Linked DNA regions of Homo sapiens: all the other regions are linked to region 1. The links come from fine-mapping of genetic effects on gene expression. A gene starts in region 1. Each other region holds a variant in brackets. All regions are shown on one strand. Distances are from middle to middle. Region 1 holds the start of ANK1 (ankyrin 1). Region 2 overlaps ANK1 (ankyrin 1). Region 3 holds the start of NKX6-3 (NK6 homeobox 3).

Evidence for each region. PIP is the estimated chance that this variant, and not a neighbour inherited with it, causes the effect.
Region 2: its variant is fine-mapped to the expression of ANK1 in whole blood (TOPMed, PIP above 0.99).
Region 3: its variant is fine-mapped to the expression of ANK1 in whole blood (TOPMed, PIP above 0.99).

Annotation. Positions count from the first base shown.
Region 1 is chr8:41,792,657-41,800,656 of GRCh38, reverse strand. ANK1 (ankyrin 1) reads left to right here and starts at 3,035. Exons shown (of 43, transcript NM_000037.4): 1 at 3,035-3,145. The coding sequence starts at 3,119. It overlaps LOC105379392 (a long non-coding RNA gene), which reads right to left and starts at 2,879. Exons shown (of 3, transcript XR_949708.3): 1 at 2,278-2,879; 2 at 229-1,663. RefSeq lists enhancers at 763-1,962, 7,401-8,000.
Region 2 is chr8:41,768,182-41,776,181 of GRCh38, reverse strand. The region is part of intron 1 of ANK1 (ankyrin 1); the gene reads left to right. Among named protein-coding and RNA genes, the nearest start is that of ANK1, 25 kb to the left of the region's middle. The variant C/T (reference allele first, on the strand shown) is at 3,253.
Region 3 is chr8:41,645,632-41,655,623 of GRCh38, reverse strand. It overlaps NKX6-3 (NK6 homeobox 3), which reads left to right and starts at 4,807. Exons shown (of 3, transcript NM_001364841.2): 1 at 4,807-5,513; 2 at 7,389-7,558; 3 at 8,930-9,992. The coding sequence starts at 5,132. The coding sequence ends at 9,175. It overlaps ANK1 (ankyrin 1), which reads left to right. Exons shown (of 43, transcript NM_000037.4): 43 at 1-2,399. RefSeq lists silencers at 1,470-1,809, 1,830-1,899, 1,920-1,969, 8,835-9,064 and an enhancer at 1,497-2,290. The variant G/A (reference allele first, on the strand shown) is at 3,228.

The sequences.
Region 1 (8,000 bases):
GTTTCCATCTCTGTTGGGGAGGGGAGCAGGGCATGAGGTCGATGGAATCCCATGAAAGACTGGGGCATTGGAACCCAGAGCCTCTTTGTTAGCTGGGTCATGGGCACATGACACTATCAGTTTATTATCTTTTTGTTGCCTTCCAGATGGGTATAGATATAGATGGGGAACGTATATTGTCTAACTGTGAACTGAATTAAAGCGTTAATCTAATGCAAAATGGCTCACATGGCCTCCAGACCCTAGATCCAAATGGCTTGGGTAGAAACCTGGCACCGTGTCTTCTTAAGTAGCTCTCTTAATCTCCCCGTGCCTCCGTTTCTTCACAATGACTGGATCTGACGAGAGTGAATTACAGTGTAATTATAAGGGTTTTATGTATGACTAAATATTTTGTCAAGTGCTTAAAGTAGTATCTGGTACCAGGAAAGCACTATATATATGTTTGTTAAACAAAGGGTGGGGGCTTGTGAAGGGGTTTGGGGGAGTGGAGAGGAGCACTGAATTTTCTAGGTGTTCTCATAATCCGGGAGCAAAACTTTAAAAGCCTGGCCCTGCATTTCCAGCGTGGGGACAGCTTTTGCGGCCCCCTTTCAGAGACTCGAGGGAAACAAGGTATTCTATGGCAGATAACTTGGGAAGCTCTTGGGGCAGTCTGTTGGTGAAGGGAGGGACAAATGTCACTCCAATTCACAGTCCATGACATGCCTGTCCTTAGTTCCTTGTCACGGGGGCAGCTGCTTCCAGGGGTGAATTTGAGGGTCTCAAGCACATCGTGAGTCCGGCTCCCTGAAACCAGGCTGCTCCCCGAAACCAGCCCAGCTCCCTTTCACCTGGGTGTTGGTTTGCCCCTGAGCATGCCTGGCCTTTTCCTCCGCTTCCTGTATCCAAGGGAGAGGAGCCTTGTGTTGCCTGGGGTGACCTAGTTCTGGGGTTAAATTCTGAAATGACCTGGCTCCCAGAGAAGCTGTGCTGGCCCGCCTCAAGCCTGAGGGACTGGGGAGGCACCATGTTGCCCACCGGAAGCACTGCACAAGGAACTAGCAGGATCCTAAGCTTTGGAATTATACTCTCTACCTACAGGATGTTTCCTACATCATGTGACACTCTGTGTTCATATGCTGGTGTTCTCTCTTCTGAGTGTGGGAACTCCAAAGAGAAAAATATTGTTCCTCCTCTTCCTTGGATGGTGAAACGGCTTCTAGCTTTCGTCACTCCTGCTGGTGACAACCACGGGTTCGTTCCAGAAGCCATTACTGAGCACTTGCTATGTTCTGAGTCAGCTAATATTTAAGCTTCATTCTTGCCCCTGAGTGGGGTGCATGCCACGCTGCCCCCTCATGAGTGAGCCTGGCCCAGTATGTGTTGCCAAGTGAGATCATCTGTCCTTCGGGGAGGCTGTCTGAAATCATGTCTAATGTGACCTGCTTCTTTTACATTTTTTAGCTTTCTGGCTCCCTCAAAACAAACAAACAACAACAACAACAACAACAAACAGCCATTGTTTTGAGTCCAAGTGCTTCAAAAGGCTCCTGCTTAAGGACTGTGCTGTGGTAGACATGGCGGTTCCTTCTAGCCCACATGTGGCCTAGAACTCTGTCAGCTCTGTCAGGCACTAGTCCCCGGGGAGATGGCCCAGCGTCCATGGGGTGCGCTCCAGCTGCTGTGGAAAACACAGACGGGTCATGAAGCTGATCTCGGTGGCATCTTTCCGCAGCAGCTGTGCCCTCATGGCAAGGCCAGTTTGGTGCTGCGGGAAAGCTCTAAAGCCAGATGGCGGCCTCGTCAGGGGACCTGGACCAGCGTGGGCCCAGCAGGAGGCCAAGCATCACGTGAGGAAGGCTGGAGAGACCCTTCTCAGGGAGGACTGCACCAGAGGCCCCCAGCGGTGACACCCACCCCTAGAGGAAACCATGGAGGGAGACAGCCCCCACCTTAATGGCACCACCCCCAGGGTCCAGGGAGGCTGCCATGCCCCTGGCCCCGCAGCTCAGCTCCTCGGGGTCACCTGTTCCCTCTGCCAGCCACCAACTGCCATTCCAGGATATGGTGTTCTCACTGATAAAGCCATTCTGGGCAGATGACATCTCATCCCGTTGTTGGACGGGCGGACGTTGCAAAAGGCGGCTTCCTAGGCCAGGCCTGCAGGAGCTTGGCCTGGGATGGTCCAGCCTGGCTGGTGGGCAGCCCCGACCTTCTGGCAGCTGCGGGACCGCCTGGGCGCCCCCCTGCCCGCGCCATCCCACGCCCTCCTAGCCGCTGTTTGCGGTGACTCACCTCGGTTCCCAGGAACGTTGTTATTTTTGGCCCTGGTGTTATTAAGATTGTGCCCAGATTCCCTGCAAATCGGCCACTAAGCAGCATGGGGCCCTAGTGAAAGCACGCGGAGAACAGAGGGGGCAGCGCGCTTCGGGAGGCTCCCCGGCCTTGGAGAGCTCCAGCCTCCCCGGGGGGCGGAGGGGCCGGCCAGAAGGACTCCTGCGCCCCACACCCGCAGCGCCGACAGGGCGTGCGCCCTGGCTCAGCGCTCCCCGACTGCTCCCAACCCAGGGGCACCCAGGGCCGAAGCTTCCTCTACAGAGCCTCCCCCTCCTTAGGAAACAAAACAAAACAAAACAAAAACCAGGAAAGGCAAATTGTGTAGATGCCACTAAAAAGAAATTCCCGCTTAGTATTGCTTCCCCTGCACCCAGCGACTTTTAGACAAGCAGAAGAGGAGATGCCCTGCCCGCGACTAAACCGGACTCCCTTTCATTTACTACCCTCTCAGCGTGTGGCCTGATGTCCAACTCTGGGCTCTGAACTCAGCTCTCCCCGGCTGCTCTCGACCCCGGGGCAACCAGGGGTCCGCGCCGGCCGAGGCCTGGGGAGCGGGGCCTCCTGGGGTTGGGGGAGGAGGTGCTCTTGTAATCTGCGGTCCCCAGGCGGGCGCCACCCCTCCGCCCGCCCGTGCCGGGAGCGCCCGGCCCGACAGCAAGCGCCTCTGGGGCCGATAAGGCCCTCGGGGGCCTGGCCCGCACGTCACAGGCCCCGCAGAGGCTGCGGTGAGTCCGCCAGCCCCAGCTGCTCCTCCTCAAGCCCCCAAGGCCCTTCGGCGGGCCCCTGCTGAAAGACCGGCATGCCCTATTCTGTGGGCTTCCGCGAAGTGAGTACTGGGCGGCTGCTCGGGTGGACGGGGAGATGTCAGGAGGGGGCCACCCAGGCCGCGCCAGTAGGCAGCACGCGAGCAAGAGCAGCTTTGCACACCCCACCCGCCTCGCCTCCCCGTGGGCTCCCTGCCTTAGCATAGCGGCACATCGACCTTGTAGCTGAAGGCAGCAGGTGGACTCTGCCCTACTCGCTGAAGCCAGTTTCATATTTTTTACATCCAGAGATTTGCTGTCAAATTGAGTTCCAACTACCTGGGTCTCTGAATTATGTCCTGTCAGCAATAGCGCTGGGGAGGGATGGTTTTTGGATTATAGTCCAAATCTATTGAGATCTTAGAGGCTTTCCTTTGAGTCTGCTAAACTGCGTTTTGTAGGTGTGTTATTACAGGCTGCGGGGTGGGCCACCCGGCTAGGGGGCTGTCACTGTCATTTGGAAGGGGACTTTGGCTTGTTTTCTCAAAGACTCACGGAGGCCGGTGGTCTCATGGTCACACCTGCTCGGTTCTTTTAATTTATGTTGTTAATTCATGGAGAGAAATATGTCTACGAAGGAAGGGAAAGAGCGGCGGCGTGGCCTGGGGAGATAGGCTCTCATGGATATTTTTCAAGTGATAATGGCGCGTTAGCAAGGCCACTCCAGCCTTCTTGTTCTCCCTGTGTAGATAGAACCCGTCCTATCTCTGCCTGGCAGCACGGCCAGCCTGTGCCATGTGTCAGTGTCCTTTGTTGGGTACGGTTCTTAGTTTAGTGATGGATTCAGAGCCCAGAGTTGGACATCAGGCCACACACACGCTGAAAGGGTAGTAAGTGAAAAGGAGTCTGGTTTAGTCGCGGGCAGGGCATTTCGTCTTCTGCTTGTCTAAAAGTCGCTGGGTGCAGAGGAAGCAATACTAAGCGGGAATTTCTTTTTAGTGGCATCTGTACAATTTGCCTTTCCTGGTTGATTTTTTTTTTTTTTCTAAGGAGAGAGAGGCTCTGTAGAGGAAGCTTGGGCCTCCCACTTTAGTTCCACCAGCGGCAAGCAATTCAGGTTAAGTTGGTAGAGTCTTTTTCCTCTTGTGGCACCACTCTAGGGCAGAGGTTCAGGGTGAGTCTTGGAGACCTGATCATAGCCAACTTTGGAAGGAGGCAGGTGACTGCAGGTGTCCCGTGCAATGTGTGAACTGTCTTCAGACTCAAACGCAAGTGTTTTGCAGGAATAAGGAATGGCCGATGGAAAAAATGGGTAAAATTAGCCTTCTTTCACAAATCAAGTTACAGCCTCAAGCCACTTTTCTCTGTGTCTCAGTTTTCTTGTCTGGGAAATGGGTCTGCTGTGAGGCTGAAGTGAGTTACTCGGTTATGAAAACATTAGCAAAGGGGACAGAGGCTTGAAGACGTTTATTGTAACCAGGATCCATAGACTCAACTCACCCTTGACTTTATGGGTCAATTATAATTAGTTTCTTCTCTGTTATTGGTATATAATAATTTACATATTTGTGGAATACATGTGAGTGTTTGTTTCATGCATAGAATGTGTACTGACCAAGACAGGGTATTTGGGGTGTCCATAGACTTGAATGTTTATCATTTTTACGTGTTGGTATCATTACAAGTCCTCTCTTCTGGTAACTTTGAAATGTACACGGTATTGTTGCTATTATAGTATAGTCACCCTAAGCTGCTATCAAACACCAGAACTTATTTCTTCTATCTAACTGTATGTTTGTACGCATAACCAATCTCTCTTCATTCTCTTGCCCCCCACCCACCCTTCCTGGTCTCTGGTATCTATTATTCTATTCTCTAGGTCCAAGAAATCAACTTTTTTAGCTCCTATGTATGACTGAGAACATTCAGTATTTGTCTTTCTGTGCCTCGCTTATTTCACTTAGCATAATGACCTCCAGTTACAACCACGTTGCTACAAATGACATGATTTCATTCTTTTTCGTGGCTCAAGCAGCTGTAATTAGTTTTTATATTTATTTATTTAATAATAATTATTATTATTTTTAAGACAGAGTCTCGCTCTGTTGCCCAGGCTGGAGTGCAGTGGTGTGATGTTGGCTCACTGCAACCTCTGCCTCCTGTATTCAAGCAATCCTCGTGCCTCAGCCTCCTGAGTAGCTGGGACTACAAGTGCGTGCCACCATGCTTGGATAATTTTTGTATTTTTAAGTCTCAGTCTCACCATGTTGGCCAGGCTGGTCTCGAACTCCTGACCTCAGGTGATCCACCCGCTTCAGCCTCCCAAAGTGCCGGCATTACAGGCGTGAGCCGCTGCGCCTGGCCTATAATAGTTTTTAAACCCAGGTTGCCACCTCTCACCCCAAAATGGTTCTGCCAGTGTCTCTGCAAAACCAGCTGACTTATTTTGAGATTAATCAAACTGCAATATATTTAGAAAAGCAGGGTTTCAGTTGTTGGTGTTGCCAAAATGAACAGAGAAAATAAGAGTGTTTTCTAAAGGTGAAGTGACTAAAAACCTTTGTCCTCCAGGTCTGTTTAACAACCTTTACGGCCAGGCACGGTGGCTCACGCCGGTAATCCCAGCACTTTGGGAGGCCAAGGCAGGTGGATCATGAGGTCAGGAGTTCGAGGCCAGCCTGGCCAATATGGTGAAACCCCGCCTCTGTTAAAAATAAAAAAAATTAGCCAGGCGTGGTGGCGTGTGCCTGTAGTCCCAGCTACTTAGGAGGCTGAGGCAGGAGAATCGCTTGAACCTGGGAGGTGGAGGTTGCAGTAAGCCGAGATGGTGCCACTGCACTCCAGCCTGGGTGACAGAGTGAGACTCTGCCTCAAAAACAAACAAACAAACAAACAAAAACCTTTAACAAGCATTTATGAAGCACCTATTGTGTATTAGGTCCTGTTGGGGCACCGGGAATATAGCAGTGAATAAAACTGACAAAAACTCTGTCCTTGCAGAGCTTATTTCCCAGCAGGGGAAGGAAACAGGCTAAAAACAAAATAAAGGAGTAAACTGCATTCTGTTGAAAGGTGAAAAGTCAGTCCTGTTATTGAGGGAGAGGGAAGCGGGCAAGGGAAATAGGATGTGTGGGGAGTTCTGCAACTGAAATAGGGTACTCTGAGACAGCCTCATTGAGGTGCCATTGGATAAAGAGGTGAAGGAAACAGCCAGGCCAAACTCCAGAGGAAACAGCACATGCAAAGGTCCTGAGGCAGGCGTGTGTCATGGGAATAACCGGGAGGCCAGTGTGGTTGAAGCAGAGTGAGGCAGGAGGAGCAGGAGGAGGTGAGGTCAGAGAGATTGGGAAAGGGGCACAGGTGCAGAAGATGCAGGGCTTTGTACATTGATGTGGGGATTTTACTTCTGCCTTGAGCGAGATGAGAAGCATTAGATAGTATTTGTATGAGGCAAATGGCACCATCTGACTTCTGCCTATACCTATGACTTCCTAATGCCTTTGAAACCAGGGATTCACGTTTTGTAGGGATGGGCTACCAAATTAAACCACCTGATATAGTGTGGCAAATGGTGTTATCATGCAATTGTAGTACAACCGTTCTCAACTTGCTTCCCTCTGGGATACATAGGGCTGGTTGTTGACATAGTTCTGCATGACATATTTCATGGCTATACCTGGGTATTAATAATCCCCCTCTCTCTTACACGTTCCTATTTAATGAGAAAATAGTGCCATAGATGCTCCCTACTTAATAATTTACCACTGGTTATATTTAAAAGGAGATGGGAGCCACTATAAAATCACAATTCATATGTAGTATATGAATTTGCAATCACAGCTGCAGAAGATCCTTCATGGTCTTCTTGGGACCTTGGCATGGATAAAGCGGAACAAGGTTCTGGAGCATGAGCTGTCAAGAAAGCTCGGGTGTAAGTGTGCAAGAGCAGAGCTGTGATAGAGGGGAACCTTGAATGTGTTCTAAGTTTTAAAAAGCAACAGTGGTCTTCTTACAGGTGGTCTCACTCCCTCTAATCCATTCTTCACACACAACCAAAGTGCTGTTTTAGAAGGGCAAATCTTACCACTTCACTTTCTTGCTTTAAATCTTCAGTGGCTTCACAGTGTTCTTAGGACAGTGTAGACTCCTTCCTGAGATGCCTCCTGTCCTGATCCTGCACTGTTGTATTTATTTTTTTTTATTGTTTGTTTGTTTGAGACAGGGTCTCACTGTATTGCCCAGGCTGGAGTGCAGTGGCACAAGCATAGCTCACTGCAGCCTCCAACTCCTGGGCTCAAGTGATCCTCCTTCCTCAGCCTCCAGATTAGCTGGGACTGCAGGTGTGTGCACCTCCACGTTCAGCTAATTTTTGTATTTTTTGTAGAGACAGGGGTCTCACTATGTTGCCCAGGCTAGTCTTGAACTCCTGGCCTCCAGTGAGCTTCCCTCCTTGGCCTCTCAAAGCACAGGGTTTACAGGCATGAGCCACCGCACTCGGCCCTGGACTACTTCTTATTCAGAACTCCCACAATAATTGCTCCAGGACACTGTCAGTTCCTTCAACAGGCTGCACTTGGACATTTTTATATAATATTCAGAAACTCTACATGGGTGGGACTCAGGCTTGCCTTGTTCACTGCTGTGTCCTTGGCACTTAGCACAGTGCCTGCCACATGGTAGATGCTCATTAAATGTTGGTTGCATTCATGAATGAACAGTAAATTATTTGCAGAACACCTCGTGGTTGATGACTGCTTAGCAGTTTGCTCACAAACCTGCGATTGAAAATTATTGCTCTAGGGTTTGCGTGGATGACTTTTTAGATACTCTGCTCTTGGGATTTTTTAAAATTCATAAAATAGTTTCTCCTTCCTCTGAACTCTCATTGCACTTCATCAGAACCTCCCTCAGGGCCCTCCTCATTTTCCACACCTCCCC
Region 2 (8,000 bases), 24 kb after region 1:
AATTTCAGTTTTCCCCTCTACCCTAAAAATACCTTAGGTTGCAGAATGGTGCAAAGCCCAGGGCCAGCCCCTTTACTGTGTTTCATGCACCACCCCAGGCATCAGGCATCATGTTACTCCTGGAGGACTTTGGACAAATGACTTAATGTTTTTGTGCCTTAGCTGCTTCTGTCAAATGGGAATAATAATAGCTGTTAACTCGTAGGGTGGTTTTGAGGGTTAAATGTGTTAACATCTAACATGCTTTGAACAATACCTGGCTCACACATTGTAGCTATTATTATTGTTATTATTAGAAATAAGGTCTCACTCTTTTGCCCAGGCTAGAGTGCCATGGCAGGATCATAGCTCACTGCAGCCTTGAACTTCTGGCCTCAAGCGATTCTCCCACCTCAGCCTCCCGGGTAGCTGGGACTACAGGTGCGCACCACCATGTATGGCTAATTTTAATTTTTTGTGTGTATGGAGAAACAGAGATCTTGCTATGTTGCCCAGGCTGGTCTCAAATTCCTGGCCTCAAGTGATATTCTTGCCTCAACCTCCCAAAGTGCTGGGATTACAGGCATAAGCCACCATGCCCTGCTAACTGTAGCTTTATTATTATTATCTTCAAATCAGTTCCCCCTTCCTGCTCTCACTTCTGTATCTCATTGTCTCTGCGGTGAATCATCATGGGCTAGAGGGTGTGGACGGGGCCTTCCAGGCCTAGTTCCCAATGGATGGTTCAAGGCTACCTTCTCCATGTAAGGGAAGCCTTGCTCCAGAGGCTGGACAAACTCCAGGGGCACAGACCCCAAATTTCAGGGTCACAAGCCCCTCTGGAATCTTGGGCAGGTCTCTCTGGCTGGCAATGGGCCACCCATCCTGGCTCTGTCCCTTGGGGCAAATTGTTCAAATAAAGGAGGAGTCTCAGGGTACCCCCTGGTCGGCCCCGCCTGCTCCAGATGGCAGCTTATATCAGGCAAAGTTGCATTTCTAAGGAAGGGTGGGAATCTTTCTTCATTGCTGAGGAAGAGCGTGCCATGCAGGGCTGTCCAACGCCTGGGCATCCTTCAGAAACTCTGGAGCCATGGGGTTCACTGCCAGTACTTAAGCCTGTTTGGCAACTTGAAAAAAAAAAGAAGAGTCCCTATTTTCCCTATTAGCACCTTCCCAATGATTTTGATTTTGCATTTTCTCCAGTATGTGCTCCTCCTCCTCGCATACCAGCAGGCCGCAGAGGAAGGTTTCCCTAATGTTTGGAAACACTGGAGGTAGTTTAGTAAATGGGCCCATTCTGGCAGTGCCGCTCATCCACATTTTCCAAAATGTGTGTAATTCCACTCTAGTCTCGGCTCCCCAGTCCACAATATGTTCTGAAGTGTCAATTCTAAATGCAGCCCATTCCTTGCGCAGTGGGGAAATGTGGCATGCTCTGCGGCGTGGGCCAGGGTGCTTGGTGATGCGGGTGCACTTGGAATTCTATTTAGGCACCCACAAGACACCCCAATATCTTCCCACCCTCAGCAGAAAGATGTGAACTATTGAAGAGCTGTCTGCTTCGCTGCCTTGGGACTGAGGAAACAATTGCTCTCTTGGGCTTGGACTGGCAATTTAGGACTAATGGAGATTGTGGGGAAAGGATGGGCAGGGCAGGTTGGGGTGTGGAGGCTTTTTTCTGCAGCACGGCCCTGGCCCTGGGATGGGAAGCACCTGAAACTTCCCTGCCCAGAAGAGGACAGTGGTCCCCAGGCTGTTTCTACAGGGGCTATAATAGCACGTGGGGACATTGACAATTTAGTCAACTAGCCCCGAACATCTGATTCATTTAGAAATCTGAGTTGACTGGATTCCAATCCAGCTAACGTTTATGGAGCCTCTGTTGTGCGGCCAGCATTGTGCTTAAACTCATGTCTGTTGTTTTCAGCATGACTGGTGGGAGCTCCTACCTGGTTGACATGGGGCACAAAACTGCATCATGTTCTGCTCAGGAAACATGTATTGAGTGGTGCTTCTGTGCTAGGCTTGGGGATTCTGAGTTGAGCGGAGATGAGAAGAGACCTCGTCTCCTACTTCCCTGCCCAGGGGGTCCTGGGTGGTCCCAGAACTATTCAGCAGAAGCATTTGCTTAATCTCAAGGCATTTTGTTCTTTAGGAATTCTGGTTCTATTTCTTATCCAAAAAGAGACACAGATACTGAAGCTGAAATTTGTTATTGTACATAAAACATTCTGTTCGCTTCATCTGGTTATTTGATGGGAAACAGTGGCGTTTGGATGCCTGTTTATTTCTCACTATTGGGAAAATAATCCTGTCCCCCGCAGGCTTGCCACTTGGGTCCACTCCCCATCCTTCTCCAGCACCGGGACTGGGTTTCTGGGGAGCTGGGCACCGTGGCCGTGGGGAACTTAGACTTTCCTTGGATCTTCCTGTTGTAGATTCTCGGCTGTGGGCTCTGCAGTGCATGCAGGAGGGAGCGGGGGTTCCAGAACATGTGATTTGAAAGTAGGAAGAAGGGGGAGATGCCGGATATATCAAAAGCACATGGAGTTTTCACACTGGGGGTAGAGGGATTTAAAAAAATCTCAATTCTGAAAAAGAGACCCGGTGTGCAAAACCCTTTCCAACTCACGAGCTCGTTAGGAGTCGAATTCCACCAAAGCCATGCCAAAGAGTGGGCCTGTAACCCAAGAGATCCCTTTGGAAGGACAGTCAATATCTGATCCCAGGAATAAGGGGAACCCCTGTGTGTGTGAAGAGAAAATCCTAGGTTCAGCTGTGCCTCCCCCCTTCCCTCCCTCCTCCAGGGATCTCGGGTTTAATGTTGGCCCTTTTTGGAATCCACACAGCACCTTTCTCATGGGTTTAAAAATAGACTCCAGGGCTGCCAACCCTCTTAAAAAGAACATGATGGAGATTGGTGCCAACTCTGTGGGGCCTGATCCGGGCTCTGATCACCTCCCTAAATAGACCCCCGCACTTGCCATCCCTTACTCCAGCCAGGCCGGGTGCCCAGGACACCTTAATTGACCACTGGGCACTCCCTACACAAAGTTAAATAGAAAAACAACCAAGACTCCATTCCTCTCTCCCTTTCTTCTGTCACTGCCATTAAGGTTAAGAAGGAATGACCAGGTTTAGGGGGGGTCAGGCTGGATTTCTGATTGAATTCAATGTGACATTTGTGTGGAACATTCTGTAAAGTTCCTTCCTAGTTAATAACATTTCCCCAACAGCGATGCTCCTGGTGGCTGACACACTCCCCAGGGTGGT[C/T]GCTGGCTGGGTCTGAGTGGCGATAAACCAGCCTGCCTTTCTCGGTAAAGGGTGGAGTTCCTGGTACCCACCCTTATCAGTGGTGCCCAGAGTCTCTAGGAGCAGGGGCGGCTCCTTGGGTGGGTGAGGATGGAACAGATGGAAGGAGGGTCAGGAGGAGAGCCCAACGGGTCAGCTGGCCACAGCCAGCAGCAGGACACTGCAAGGGCAGCTGCGGACAGGGAGCGTGGGGGCACAACTGAGTCCACACATTGTTTCTTTGCTGCAGAGAATATGGGCATTGAAAAGGGTGCATTGTAAGCCCAAGAGGTCTGGGTGCAGGGTAGAGCTTTGAGATTTCTTGGGATCCTGATCTTGACCATGGATGTTTGACCCTGGGTAAGCAGTGATGAGGCCTTGATTTTCCAGTGTTGAAGCAAGATCAGTGACAACCCACACCTCTGGGGGAGACATTAACCTTTGACAAAAGCTTTAGTCGAGAAGAAATGGAGGGGAGGAGGAAAAAAGAGCATCAGCTGTCATTGATAGAGCACTTACCAAATGTGCCAGAAGTGGTGGTCAGCATTTTACATTATTCTCCCAATATTGGAGAGATGGGTGAAGCTATTTTCACTTTACTGATGAAGAAATCAATGCTCAGAAAAGTCATTTCCTTTATCAAAAGCTGCACAGCTCAATTGTGGGAGACCTACTGATTTAGAGCCTCTTAAGAGGCTGTCCAGAAAGCAAATAGTGTTGTTGCTATTGAGTTCTGGGTTTGAGTTGATTGCATAGGAGGGTTAAGCGCGACGGTCATTGCCACAGGGCCTGAGCTGCCAGGATGCCCTTCTCTCGAATCCTGGGGCTGCCCTGATCTCAGCTCTGATGTCCCTGTAGAGAGGAGCCACTTCATGTCTCTGACTGGCCACCATTTGAAGCAGCCCGGACCTGTTCTCCCAAATCATCCTGGGGAGGCAGAGTCGCCTGAGAATCCCACTCGCATGGGATTCTTTGCTGCAGGCTTGTGTTCTTCCAGCTCGTGAAATCCCTGCAGGAATTGACAGCAGCAGCAGCCCATCAAGTGTCCCAGAGTCCCTGTCTATACTGAGAACAGCCCACTGCATCAAGCCAGGAGCGAGCTGGGGGTTTAAGTGCTGCATAGTCTATTTCTTCCCTTTCTTCTCTCCCACATCATCCCTGCTTGGCATAGCTGCATGTGGCCCAGAGGACAGAACCCCACAGGCGAGGCCTCCAGCTTTTCATTATGCTTGTCTGCAGAGAGACCTGCAAGGAGACAGTAGGTAAAATATTTAGCAAGACGGGAAAAGCCTGAAGACTCCATGAAGCTACAGGCTAGAACAGTGGCCTGTGTCTGCCGAGAGTCTTTAGCCTTTTCTTCAGCCCATCAATTCCTTTCTGGTGGTTTGTTTTGATCTCACTAGCAAGTTCTTAGCACACTAAATGCCTACGTTAAAACGTGCAGCCTTGAAGTATGAACAAAATGCAGATGGAGAAGCAGGATGATTATTTGTGGTCTAAGGGTGTGGTTGTGATGGAAGGTTGAGGGGACAGTCAGTTATGGGGAAAAGAACAATAGTTTAGCTTTCTGAATCCCTAGGGCCCAAAGAGACCCTTCCAAGTCGTACAGCTTACCCAGTGGTCTATATGCCAGATCAAATGTTGAGGTTTTTTTTTTCTGCCATCCTGAAGGATCTCCTGCAAAGATTAAACCCTTTCTGAATAAAGAGTTCTATTAAGTCACGTATCTCTTATAGCTGGAAAGTTCTTTCTGTGGAATCTAAATCTTTTCCATAGCAATTGAACCCCAAGACTTACAGTTTCTTTATGACTCATGGAAGTGTTGGGGACATCATTCTTCTAACACCAGTCAGTAATCACTGTGTTTAGCACTGCCCGGCACTGTGCCAGTCACATAGAGGAGTAGGTGGGGAAAGCAAGGGAGAGGGACTGGGAATTTGGAACATGAGAACCAAGCTGTCTCTGCCTGGGAGACATTTAGAATTCAGTCCTGGTGGCAGGCCACCACACCTGGGACTGGGCACCATATAATTAGCTCCAATGTGGCATTCCAGGCTGCAGTGCTGGAATTTATGTTTCAAGGGCTCTCTCCCTTAGCTTTATCATCTCAGCTCCTTTAGCCTCAGGCCTCACTGAGCAACATGTTTGTAGTTGTGTTCTTTCTCCTCCTCTTGGGCCTTGCCTGACTCATCGCCTGCCTAAGTTTTTCAAAGCCTCAACCCTAAGGAGGTCATGACTAATGTCAAGAATTCTTGGCAGTTCTGAGAACTAAAGTCCTCTGATAATACTTCAGCATCTTTCCCATTACACTCAGAGTGCTGTGGGTTGTATTCAGCTTCTGGTCCACTATGACTATCACATCTTTTAATTTGTGATTGTATATAACCCACAGCGTTGTATAATATGAAGAAAGATACAGCTTAAGAATTATAAGAACCGAGTACCAAAATGCGACTGGGAATGTTTTGCTACTGAGCTTTGAATATTTTACTTGTAAGATCTGTTTATCTCACCTTTAAGACAGATATTCTGTATAGATAGAACTCTCAAAACTCAATAAGAAAACAAACATTCCAACTTAAAAATGGACAAAAGATTTGAACAGATGTATCACCAAAGAAGATATATAAGCTGGGCGCAGTGGCTCACGCCCGTAATCCCAACAACATGGGAGGCCGAGGCGGGCAGAGCACCTGAGGTCAGGAGTTCAAGACCAGCCTGACCAACATGGAGAAATCCCATCTCTACTAAAAAAATACAAAATTAGCTGGGCATGTTGGTGCATGCCTGTAATCCCAGCTACTCAGGAGTCTGAGGCAGGAGAATCGCTTGAACCTGGGAGGCGGGGGTTGCAGTGAGCCAAGATCATGCCATTGCACTCCAGCCTGGGCAACAAGAGCTAAACTCTTCCTCAAAAAAAAAAAAAAAAAAAAAGAAAAAAGAAAAAAAAAAGAAGATATATAGATGGCAGATAAGCACCTGAAAAAGGTGTTTAATATTATCAGTTATTGGGGAAATGCAACAGACCCCTTCTCTACAAAAAATTTTTTTTAATTAGCCATGTGGTGCATCTATTAGGATGTCTGAATTAAGACAGATCATACCAAGTCTTGACAAGGATGTGGACTGGCCGGCAGGAGGCAGGGAATACCAAGAGGCATGAGGAAACTTTTGGAGGTGATTATGCCCATTATCTTATGTGGCCATGGTTTCAGGGATATACATATGCCAAAACTTAGCAAATTGTACATTTTAAATGTGCAACTCGTAGTGTGTCAATTAATCCTCAAATAGTTGCTAAAAAATAGTATCTCTTTCAGTTCATTGTGCAAGTCAATTGCATTCGTGTTTTTAAAAGTATTATATATATTATTTACTCATCTGAGCGGGGAATTTTCTCTCTCTCTCTCTAAATATTAATGTTGGAACAGTGCATTAGAATCCCTTGAGATATTCCACTGGGCTGTGATCAGGGATGTTCCAGTAACCATCATTTATTAATTGGAGTTCTCTGTGTAGAGGATTCTAGCAAATCTGGAAGGTGGTTTTCAGAGGTACAAGGCGAGAGACCTGGAGGGTGAGCTGGGCTTTAGCAGCATGTGCCTGGGGAGGGAAGGGGCTGTGTGACTTACATCCAGACAGGCTGCTGCCTTCGAGAGGGTGCCCATCCTCAAGTTCAGCCCCAGTGCTGTGGAGGATCTTATGCCTGGAGAATTCTCACATTGTCATCTTCAAATACCAGTTTTTTAACCCCCATGGGGAGGAGTTGTATTATTACATTTCAGATCCCTCTTTTTGGCAACACCCTGGCCTTTTCTCTTGATCTTTGATTATCCCACTTCCTTGGGATGCCCCCTGATTGCTGCATAGCTTTGAAGCGTACCTGGCTTTGTAACACACTCTCACAGTATTTTCTTCTTTTTTAATTTTTATTTTTTTAGAGACAGGGTCTCACTCTTGTCACCTGGGCTGGAGCGCAGTGTTGCAATCATAGCTCACTGCAGCCTCCAACTCCTGGGCTCAGGTGATCCTCCTGTCACAGCCTCCTGAGTAGCCAGGACTACAGGCATGTGCCACCTTGCCTGGCTAATTAATTTTTTTTTTTTTTTTTGTGGAGACAGGGGGTCTCACTATGTTGCCCAAGCTGGTCTTGAACTCCTGGCCTCAAGCAATCCCCCCGCCTCAGCCTCCCAAAATGCTGGGATTATGATCCTTCAAGATCATCCCCCACATTATCTCTTCCTGGCGCTGAGTACACTATTGTTAGGAATCTTGCTGGTGCGGCCAGTGGCAGGGCTTTGGATCAATTTGGCTTAGAACCAGTTGGACCCACCATTTACTAGTGGTGACCTTGGTCTCCACCCATTACCTCCCTGGGCTCAGTTTCTTCATTTATCCAACTGTAGTAGTGTTGCCTACCTTATGGGTGGCTGTGAGGATTAAATGAGATAATGCAGTATGTCCATCAGCTAATAGGCGCTGAGCGTGCTAGTTCCTCACCAACGCGCAGCTGTACTGTACAATGTCAGGGGACAGCGGGAGAGGAAAAGAGCATTTGGTATTGTGTCTTGACTGTGACTTGAAGCCAGCAAGAAGCCGGCTTATGATACAAAACACCTATGATCTGAACAAGCCATATTGCCAGGGGCCCAGTTACCTGACACTGCTTTTACTTACGGTTCCCTCATCCCTCTGAATTGAGCCTACTCTTGATGATGTCACCCCTAGTC
Region 3 (9,992 bases), 150 kb after region 1:
CTCCTGCTAGTCCCCTCTTGGCATGAATGACTGACTGTAGACGCATGACCTCCAGGCTTCAATCCTGCCTCTTGCAATGACAGCTGATCTGTCGGAACCAGGACACAAAAGCAGCAAGAAGCGGGGAGAGAGAGGGATAGAAAACAAGCGCAGGAGAGCCTGCGAACGCAAAAGTGAATGAGGGCTTTTTGTGGCTGGGGATGGGTTTTGGTTTTGGGGTTTTTTTTTTAAATTGTTTTGACTTCGTACAGGGTACTTTTTCCCAACCTCATCTGTCAGAAATCCATGTGGGCTTCCTGGAAAGAAAAAAAAAAAAAAGAAAACTAGGCATGAAATCAGTTTAACACCTTAATCTTAAGCCATGTCCTCATCTGCCCACCCTCCCCAACCCACATACCTCCATTCCACTTGTGACACCCCCTCGACTCCCTGGTGACGCTCCTCCCAGATCGCTCTACATGACATTCAGGACACACACACACACACACACACACCACTCGCCTCCACTGAATCTACACACAGATTTTACTGTGACTTCTGAAGCTGTATAGACTCTGCTGTGGATAAATTGGAATTTTTTATGTTGTCTCTCTCTCTGCCAATTTCAATACGAATCATCTTCCAATGGAAAATCATTACCTTGAAGAGTGCATTCGGGGTTCCTTGTGTTAGGGACTTAAGAATCTGAGGCGAGGACCCCCAGGCTTACCTGTAGGACTCAAAGGGAGCCAGGACCCCATCTGAAAGGGTCTCCTCTCTCAGTTGGGGGACAGGCCGGTGGCTGACCCAGGATTGCACCAGCATGTCCATAGAGAAGAGGTTTTCTATGTCTTCAAGCACTATATCATAGTCCGTGTTCAAAGTGTAAACTGTACAGTAATCAGCCTTGTGTATATGAAAAACAATAAATACTATGCAAACCAATAGAAACATTTAGCAGTACGTACAGAGCCTGACAGCGCAGCTCCTGAGGACTTCTGCGGCTGCAGGAGAAGGAGCTGTGGCCTGTCTTTCAGTGAAAGAGGAAGGAAAGGAGTAGGGCTAGTGAATGTATCTGCCAGGTCTTAGAAGTCAGGACCACCCAGGGTCTCCCAGAGTGAACTTGGTGCTCTAAGTCCAGGCAGCCTGCAGGCTGGGGACCCTGGGTGCAGGTGCCAGGCTCGAGGCTGTTCCCTGTCCTGCCTCAGTGCCTCCCCTCTGCCCAGCCCCTGTGGCCTCTTGGAGAGGCGAGCCAGGGGGCTCCCCGGACCGCATGGCCGGTGAGAGTAGAGTCGGAGGCGGAGAGCCTGGACGCCCAGAGGCCGGGGCCAGGCTCTGGGTCAAGGCAGGAAGGAGACAGACAGCTGGCAGTTCCTCGCCTCGGTGCCATCAGGGAGGAGCCTTAAGTTCCACTAGAGCCTCCGGCCCAGGGAGGCCAGAATCAGCACAATCCCGGCCCCGCCCTCGCGGCGGGCGCCCCCAGGGCCAGGAGAGAGAGACAGGGCTGGCTCCTCTCGCCCCTGGAGCCGCGGTGTGGACGGCCCGGCCCCGTCCGCCCCGCCGCTCTGCGGGAGTGTCCTCGGGACACACTTAAACCTTCCAAGTAGCACAGAAGCCCCCTCCACGTCAGAGGCCCCCTGGCCGCGGGGCCTGTGAGCGGAGAGGGGCCCTGCTTCCCACACAAATCCGCCCCGGTGCACCCCCGGCCAGGCAGGCCCCGGGGCGGCCTAGGCGCCTTGTCGGCCGGGGGTGGGGCTGCTTTTGCTTCCTTTAGAGGGGCGGGCAGGGAGAGGAAGCTCTAGCTCCGGGCCTGAGTTTCCCCGAGGCTGCGTCGGAGGAGCTGCAGGGCGAGCCCGGACGGCTGCCGTCTCCGCCAGAGGCCACCCCGGCCCGGCCTCCAGGGCGCAGAGGCGCCCCCCTCCATCCTCCCCCATCCCGGGGGCCACGGCAGGGGGGCCGCACAGCGCGGCTGGGACCGATTCGGTGACGGCCCAAGGAAGCTGGGCTCAGGGCTCGCCTCTCCCGCCTCGATCCTGCACCTTCCTCTCCCAGGTCGCTGCTGCAGCCAACCCAGTAGCCCCCTTAGCGCCCCCGCGGACCCCGCAGCTCCAGACTCCGCTTTGGCACCTCTGCTCCGGCTGGCATGGCTGCACGCTCCGGCTGCTAGTAGGAGCCGTTAGGGGAGGAGTTTGGGGTCTCCACACGATGCCTAGAGAATGCTGCAGTCTGCACATTAGACGCTTTTTAGAAGTTTTGAAATTACCTTGATTTTTTTAATTGTTATGAAAATGGATCTTTTCTTGACTCTCCCACATGCTCTGTTATGGGAGAGAATCCCCTACCCTACTCTGATGTATAGACCATTCTCCCTTCACCAGCCGAACCAATGTCAAAATTAATAAAGAAATGGACTAATGGCACAGGGCTCTATCTCTCCTTCCCGCTCGTCTTTGGGGGGTTAGGGGTGCTGAGGCCAGCGTAAAGCCTGGGTTGTGATGTGAAGGAGTCTATGGGTGGGGCTCAGGTCCCAGAGAGCCCGCCAATGCCCAGTCCTCCCAGAAGCCTGGACAACCCTTTAATCAGGACCACCCACCTGAGAGATGCCTCCAGAGAGGTGGCAGAGTAGCTTTCTGTTCCACCTGATGGCTCCCATGAGATGGGGAGAAGTTGGGGGTCTGGGGAGGGGCCACCACAACCCACCAGGGTTCTTGGCCAGGCCCCCAGCTGGCATGCACTGAGGGGGCCCCCCAGCATTCCCTAGGAAGGCATCTGGCCCCAGTACTCAATGCCATTCAAAGTTCAAGAACTTGTTCTTGCTGTAGGGAAAAAATTGCCCTATTCCTAACTAGTTGCTAACACTTCCTGCAAGGCTGGTCACCAAGCTGACCTCAGTTTCCTCATCTCTCTAATGGGAGAATGGATTAGGTGGTTGCTAAAGTCTCTTCAGTTTCTCATCCTAGGGGCGCCAGACACCAACGCCTTTGTCAGGCTTGGCATTAATTAAGAATCAAATCATTGGCTGCGGCTTTCCTGCCACATAAATTCCCATCATGAGGGGATGACGGAGTCACAATCCCAAGGCCCCTGGAGCACCCCAGCCCCACCCCACTCCCAGCCTCTCTCCTGGAATCGGACAGGCCGTTCAGGCCAGTGGGCAACCGCAGCAGGTCATCTGCAGCACCCATGGGGCTTTTAAAAATGCAGTTTCAGAATCACAGTTGCCTGGGGGGAATTGGGTGGTGACACCG[G/A]GAACCAGAACCAGGTCTACCAGATGGCTGTGGCACGCGACCTGGTGGCAAAGCCATCTCAGACGAAGACGTAGCTCTTTTCTCTTTAAACCAAATTTGTAGGGAATCATTCCACACCCTTTGTGAGATCTTTCTTGCATAACCTAAATCCCTGTGCTACAGAGGGTCAACTTCTGCATGAGAAGGAATCCTGCCCTGAGCCTTGGGTCCTCTGCTCCCCACTGAAAACCAAGACGGCCTGGAAACCCAGGAGAAGCTCAGTGAAGCAGTGCCTCTAGTCTCCCACCTACCAGGGCGGCCTCTGGGGAGTGAGAGAGCAAGCCCTGCAGAGCCCACGCCTGGTCAGGAAGGGCTCTGGGGCCACCAGGCACAGAGAGGAGCAGAAGTCCATCTGTCTGGCAGTCACAGTCTTTCCTAGCATTTTACATGTTCAGGCCAGTGGCATGCTAGTTTCCAGTTTTAGAGAAAAACTGCAGGGAAGAATCCTGCCTGGTCCAGAAATCACCCATGTACCTGGAAAGTGGGCTCCAATTCCTCTATACCTTGGTTTTCCTGTTTGTAAAATGAGAGCTTCCCCCAATAGAGCCTTGTATGTTGTAAAAATTTATTCGAGAAAAAAAAAAGCATATGCATGTTCTGTGATTCAGCCCAGTCCACTGCATCAACTACTAACTGAGCACCGACGGAGTGCCCGGCACGGGGCTCCACCACCCTCTCAGCCATCAGGGATTTCAAACCCGGGCACCACGCCAGACAGAGCATGGCCATTGCTCCAGCAGAGGCACAAATGAGGAAGAGATTCTGATAGGGAGGTCACGGAAGGCCGACCAGAGGTGGAGGCAAGAACATGCGTGCAGGGCGGCCCTCTCTTCAGCCTCCTGCAGTTGGAGGACTCACACCCCGGCACTGTCAGGGCTGCCTACGCCCCGCGCTGCCCTCTTCCCAGCAGGCTCCCACCCTAGGCTCTCAAGCCAGCCACAGGGACTTGCATCCCCCAGAAAGCAATGCCACTCAGCCTCTTACCCCATCCCCGCACTTACCCCCATCTTATGCCACTTACCCCATCCCCGCATGCGGAAGGGAAGGAAGCGGCTGCGTTCTCCTGTGGAGCTTGGACATGTGCACATAAAGGGGCCGGCGCAGCTCCGGACAGTGGCCTCTGAGTCCAGCCTCCTCTTCCCTAGGGGAGCAGCTGTAGGAACAGTGACTTCCAATTGCCTTGGGAGCCTCCAGGGGCCCCCAGACGCTCACCTTTTCCTAGATGCTAGACTTGCGGGGAGCAAATGGACCCTCCGGCGATGAGTAGGGCTTCTAGAGCTAATTCTCTGTCTCTCTCTCGCGCGCGCGCGCATACACACACACACACACGCGCGCGCGCGCGCGCGCGCGCACACACACACACACACACCCTGGCTGATTGTACAGTCAATCTTTCAAAGTGCAATTTGTCTAGGAAAAGCCAATGTGAGGCCCGTGTGCGCCCCGACCAATGGCGGCGCGGCTCCGGCGGCTCAGCCAGTCTCCGGCCTGTATTCTAATGGGCCGTATCTTTATCAGGGAAATGTTCCTTCTCTGAACTTAAAACTTCTCATGGAGGGTCCCCCGACTCAGAGGCAGAAAGGGGGTCTGAGCTGAGGCTTAGGGGGCCACCCTGTCCGGCCAGGGCAAGGAGAGAGGCCAGGAGCCCTGGGGAGGCCTCCCACCTGCCCCGAGCACCTGACTTCCGAGCAGCTGATCGGGTGCCGGTTCCTGGGCCAGGGCCTGGCCCATGCCTTAGGTGGGAGGCAGTCAGGAGCTCGGAGACGGTCCTAAGCCTCCAGGCCTGCCATGAGATTTGGGGCTAGAGAGTGGGCTCTTGGGTTTTAGGGGCCTGGAGAAGCCTTCCCTGTCCTGACTGGGAGATCATGGAGTCCAACCTGCAGGGGACGTTCCTGCTGAACAACACGCCGCTGGCTCAGTTTCCGGAGATGAAGGCCCCGGTGTGCCAGTACTCTGTGCAGAACTCCTTCTACAAGCTCAGCCCCCCAGGGCTGGGCCCCCAGCTGGCCGCCGGAACCCCCCACGGGATCACGGACATCCTGAGCAGGCCCGTGGCTGCGCCGAACAACAGCCTCCTCTCCGGCTACCCCCACGTGGCAGGCTTTGGGGGGCTCAGCTCGCAGGGGGTCTACTACAGCCCCCAGGTAGGGAATTTTTCCAAGGCTGGGAACGAGTACCCGACCCGGACCCGGAACTGCTGGGCGGACACGGGCCAAGACTGGCGAGGCGGGCGGCAGTGCAGCAACAGTGAGTACGGGTCCTCCCCAGCCACCTCCCGGCACCCGCCAGGCCCCGGGGGGCAGAGGACGAGGAGGGGCCTCCTCCCGGGCACCCTGCACCTCCGCCCTCTCCCCCAGTCGCCATTAACCCCTGGACTCGTAGCCTCAGCTCAGTGCAGGCTGAGTTCCACCCTCTCCTCCTTCCCATCCAGCAGTGCTTGGACACAGGTGTCTGAGCCACCCCCCTCACATGCCAGCCACCTCAGCTGCCCTCCTAGGGCCCCCGGCAGTTCCAGATGTAGAGAAGGCCCCACAGCCCACGCCTGCCCTGCACGAGGTCCAGTAGGCAGCCCAGCTGGCTTCTGCAGCCCAGGGCCCATGCAACCACTTCTTCACCCAAAGCAGGCAAATGCTACCCCCGTGAGGAAAATGTCCTAGCTCACCTTCCCAGAGAGCCCTGGCATCACTCAAGGGTGCAGAACGCACCCTGACCCCATCCGGGTCCAGCCTTTGAGCCAGGGGGCTGTTGCCCACCACATCCTCGGGTTTCTAGCAACAGCAGCCACACCAAGTAGCCTGTCTCGGGGAGTTGCTGCTGAGTCCAGCTGAACTTGGCCTTGGCTGTGGGGAAGCAGGGGGCCTCTTCTCAGCCGACCCATCCCTCAGCCAAGGTTTTCAGAGGGTGGGCCCGTGATGCCAGTCAGGGTTACTGGAGGAGGTGGCAGGGCAGGTGAGGCTCTGCTGGGAGGCAGGGAGGTGAGAGTTTTTGGAATCTTCTCCGTGCCACCGAAGCCCTGCCCACGTCAGGCAGGGGCCTCCATTTCTGTCTGATCTCCGGGCTCTCCTACGCCAATGGGGGCTTGGGGCCAACCTAGGGAACCCCAAAAGCACACCTGTCCCCCCATTTGCTACTCTGCCTTGCCGGTCACAGTGCCTGACAGCCACCCCTCCATGGGCTGCCACCCATCGCTGTGCCCCTGGGGGTGAAGGCCTCCTCTCTCAGATCCTGTTTTAGGCTTGGCTTCAGGGGTGCTTTAAGCCTCAGCTGACTCTCTCTTCCCTCCATCTCCCCCTCCCCTCTCCACATCCCACACACCACCTCTTCAGTCCTGAATGCAGGTACACACACAGGGACATAGCCAAGAAAGTCAGTGGCTAATGAAGGCAAAGGCAGAGAGACTTGAACATGATCTCTCAGGAGGGCTCTTCCTCTCTCTGTGCCTCAGTTTCCTCACCTGTAACTTGAGCTGTCAGACTGCACAGAACGAGGCCTGACATGTGGGAACCACTGCCCACAGCTCCTTCCCGAGCCTGCTGCCCTGGCCAGGCTGGGGGTCAGGGTCTCTGGCCTCTGTGCCAGGCTCTCCAGGGTGGTTGAAGCCACATAACTTCCAGGCCTGGTGACATGGGGAAGTGGCAGCTTGGGGCGTCAGGTTTGCCCCTCCCTGGTTTCCTGGAGACCTGGGAAGTTGAGTCTCAAGAGCAAGGAAGTTGGCGGAAGCCGGGGGTGGAGGGAATTCACAGGCCCTGGTCCCTAATTATAGGAGGAGGGTGACCTGAAGGGACATCCCTGGGACAGAGAGGGAACTCCTGTTGCCCCTCAGGGGAAGGCAACATCAGCGAGTATTGAGAACTTTAGACAGAGAGGCATGAGGCTCTGCTGCCCCTAAGTCCCATTACACTAGGGCAGCTGCCCTCTCGGAGCCCTGCCCATCCAGGCGGGGCAGAGGTCACAGTCACTGTTCCCCAATATCAAGAATGCTGCTCAGGGGAAAGGAATCTTGGTGTCCTGGAAACCTCTGCAGGAGGGAGAGGGGCAGGCATGGTGGTTGCCCTGCCAGACGTGCCTAGCCGCAGGGTCCCCACTTATTCTACTAACCCCACACTTCCTTCCTCCTGCCAGCCCCAGACCCCCTGAGTGACAGCATACACAAGAAGAAGCACACCCGGCCCACCTTCACGGGGCACCAGATCTTTGCCCTGGAGAAAACCTTTGAGCAGACCAAGTACTTGGCTGGCCCCGAGAGGGCACGGCTGGCATACTCACTGGGCATGACCGAGTCGCAGGTCAAGGTAAGTCTGTGCGGGAGATGGCACCTGCCCTGCAGGGAGGAGCCTGCCGGACAGGAGGCCACTGCGTTGGAGAGAGGTGGCCACACAACGCAGCCCCCCAGAGGGCAGCTGTCCTGGTGTCTGGGCACTGCCTGCCTGCCTAACCCTGGAGCCTGTGGTAATTAACCATAGCCGGGAAAGGCTGAGCCCCATTCTCAGAGCCTTATGTGCGGCACCTCATTTCATCCTCTCAGCAACCCGGGGGGTCGGTATCATCACCCATTTCGCAGATGAAGATCAGTGTCTCCCGGCTGGGAGAGCTGGGAGAGCTGGCAGAGCTGGGGTTCAACCCCAGATGTGGGGGACTCCAACCTGAGGCTTTCCCTCTCCCCCCGTATTTGGCCAAAAATTCCAAGCACGGTCGGCAGTCTCTGGCCCAGATTCATGCTTGATGCTCCAGTCAGCAAAAGGAGCTGACCTCAGTTTACCAATCCTTAAGATGAAGACAACGTCTCCTTCTACTAAGCAGGATCAGATGGGCTTCAGGGGCCTGGAGCCTTGTCGCCCACGCCAGGGCTAGGGAGGGTGAGCCCAGGCTCTCCCACTCCACACGCAGGGGCCCCAAATGCCCCCTAAATAGACCCGGGGAAACCGGTTTCTACCGCCTTAGAGTCTGGGGGCAACTTTCCCCACTTTGATGCTGGCTCAGTGACTCGGCGACGGGCCTAAGGATGCAGCAGGGGCAGCTGGCACCTGGGTCTAGGCTTTGCTCAGGGCCCTGGGGCCTCCCCGAGCTCCAACCCGCTGCGCCCTCCTCATCAGCCGCTCAGCTGCCCTGGGGCGAGAGCTGGGGGGAAGAAGCAGACACTCCTGCATGTCTTTCTGCTTCTGGGGTGCGTTCCTGCCCTCTTCAACTATCCCAAGCAATGGACCTACGTTACTTTTCTAACTAACTAGGGGAACAATTATTTATGAAGTAGGGTGAGGGTCTATGAAGCCCAGAGTAGGGACTGCTCATAAGCACCTTCCAATGAGCACCGGGGCTAAGCCTTCCACCCGCGCACTCCGCATCTTCCACCGAGTTCCCAGGTGGAGGAGGAGGAGGAGGAGGAGAAGGAGGAGGAGGGGGAGGGGGAGGGGGAGGGGAGGGGGAGGGGGAGGGAGAGGGGGAGGAGGCGGCGGTGGAAGAGGAAGCAAATGGTGGGGGCGGGGGGCGGAGGGGAGGGCTGCCGCGCTCACGTTTTTAAATTTTATTGTCCTTCCCCAACAGAAACGTGAATGTGACAGTCACTCCGTTGTTGAGCCATTTGTTTAGCTGTAAAAGCAGGATGGCTGTTCTCGCGTCCCGTGCGCGCTGTGCCCCTGTGCCCTTCACATTCTTTCTCATCGCAGGTGTGGTTCCAGAACCGCAGGACCAAGTGGCGGAAGAAGAGCGCCCTGGAGCCCTCGTCCTCCACGCCCCGGGCCCCGGGCGGCGCGGGTGCAGGCGCAGGCGGGGACCGCGCACCCTCGGAGAACGAGGACGACGAGTACAACAAGCCGCTGGACCCCGACTCGGACGACGAGAAGATCCGCCTGCTGCTGCGCAAGCACCGCGCCGCCTTCTCGGTGCTCAGCCTGGGAGCGCACAGCGTCTGACGCCCGCCGTCCAGGCCCGGGATCCTGGCTGCAGCCTGCGGGGGGACGCCGAGGAGCCTACCTTCCCCTCCCCTTCCCCACGCTCCTGGGGGCGCAGGGACTGAGTCTTTCTTTGGATGAGGGGCGCGTGGAGGAGGAGCAGCAGGTGCAGGGGAGGAGGAGGGGAGGCGGGGGAGGAGGAGGAAAAGGAGGGAAAGGGGACAGGCATCCTAGCTAAGGGAGGAGGAGGCCAGGAGGGAGGCACAGCACTCCTGAGACCTGGAAGCCGCTGCCCCTTGCACCTCCTCGGGCCTCGCCTGCCAGTTCTGCAGATTCACAAGTGGACAGAGGACTAAAATGACCAGGCTCTGCAGCCAAGAAACTGGCTGTGGGGTCCCAGACATGCCACTGTGATCCAGCTGTTGGGGCGGGGGGAGTGGGCAGGACTTCCCAGGGAGGGAGGCAGCTGGCTGGGGAGTCAGAAGTCCAGAGTCTTGGGCCCCAAGCCAGCTGCTGGCTGCAGAAGAAAAGACAGGTGAGTGGCCAGGTGCACTCCTCAGACCTGTGCACAGGAAGGGTCCCACTGGAGGGGCCAGAGCTGAGCACCTAACCCAGGCTGCAGGAAATCTGCCTCCAGGAGGGGAAGTGGGACATCCCAGTGGAGAAAAAATGCCCCTGACACTGCAGGATGACGGCCCCTGAGCTGCGGAAATCCCCCTGGCCTCCTTTCTCCGATTTACCCTCAGGGTCAATACCTCTGAGACCGCTGTGCCCTCCTCATCCTGACAGCCGGGGAAAAGGGGAGGGTGCAGGGAGAGGGGAGGCGGGGACGGTGTGC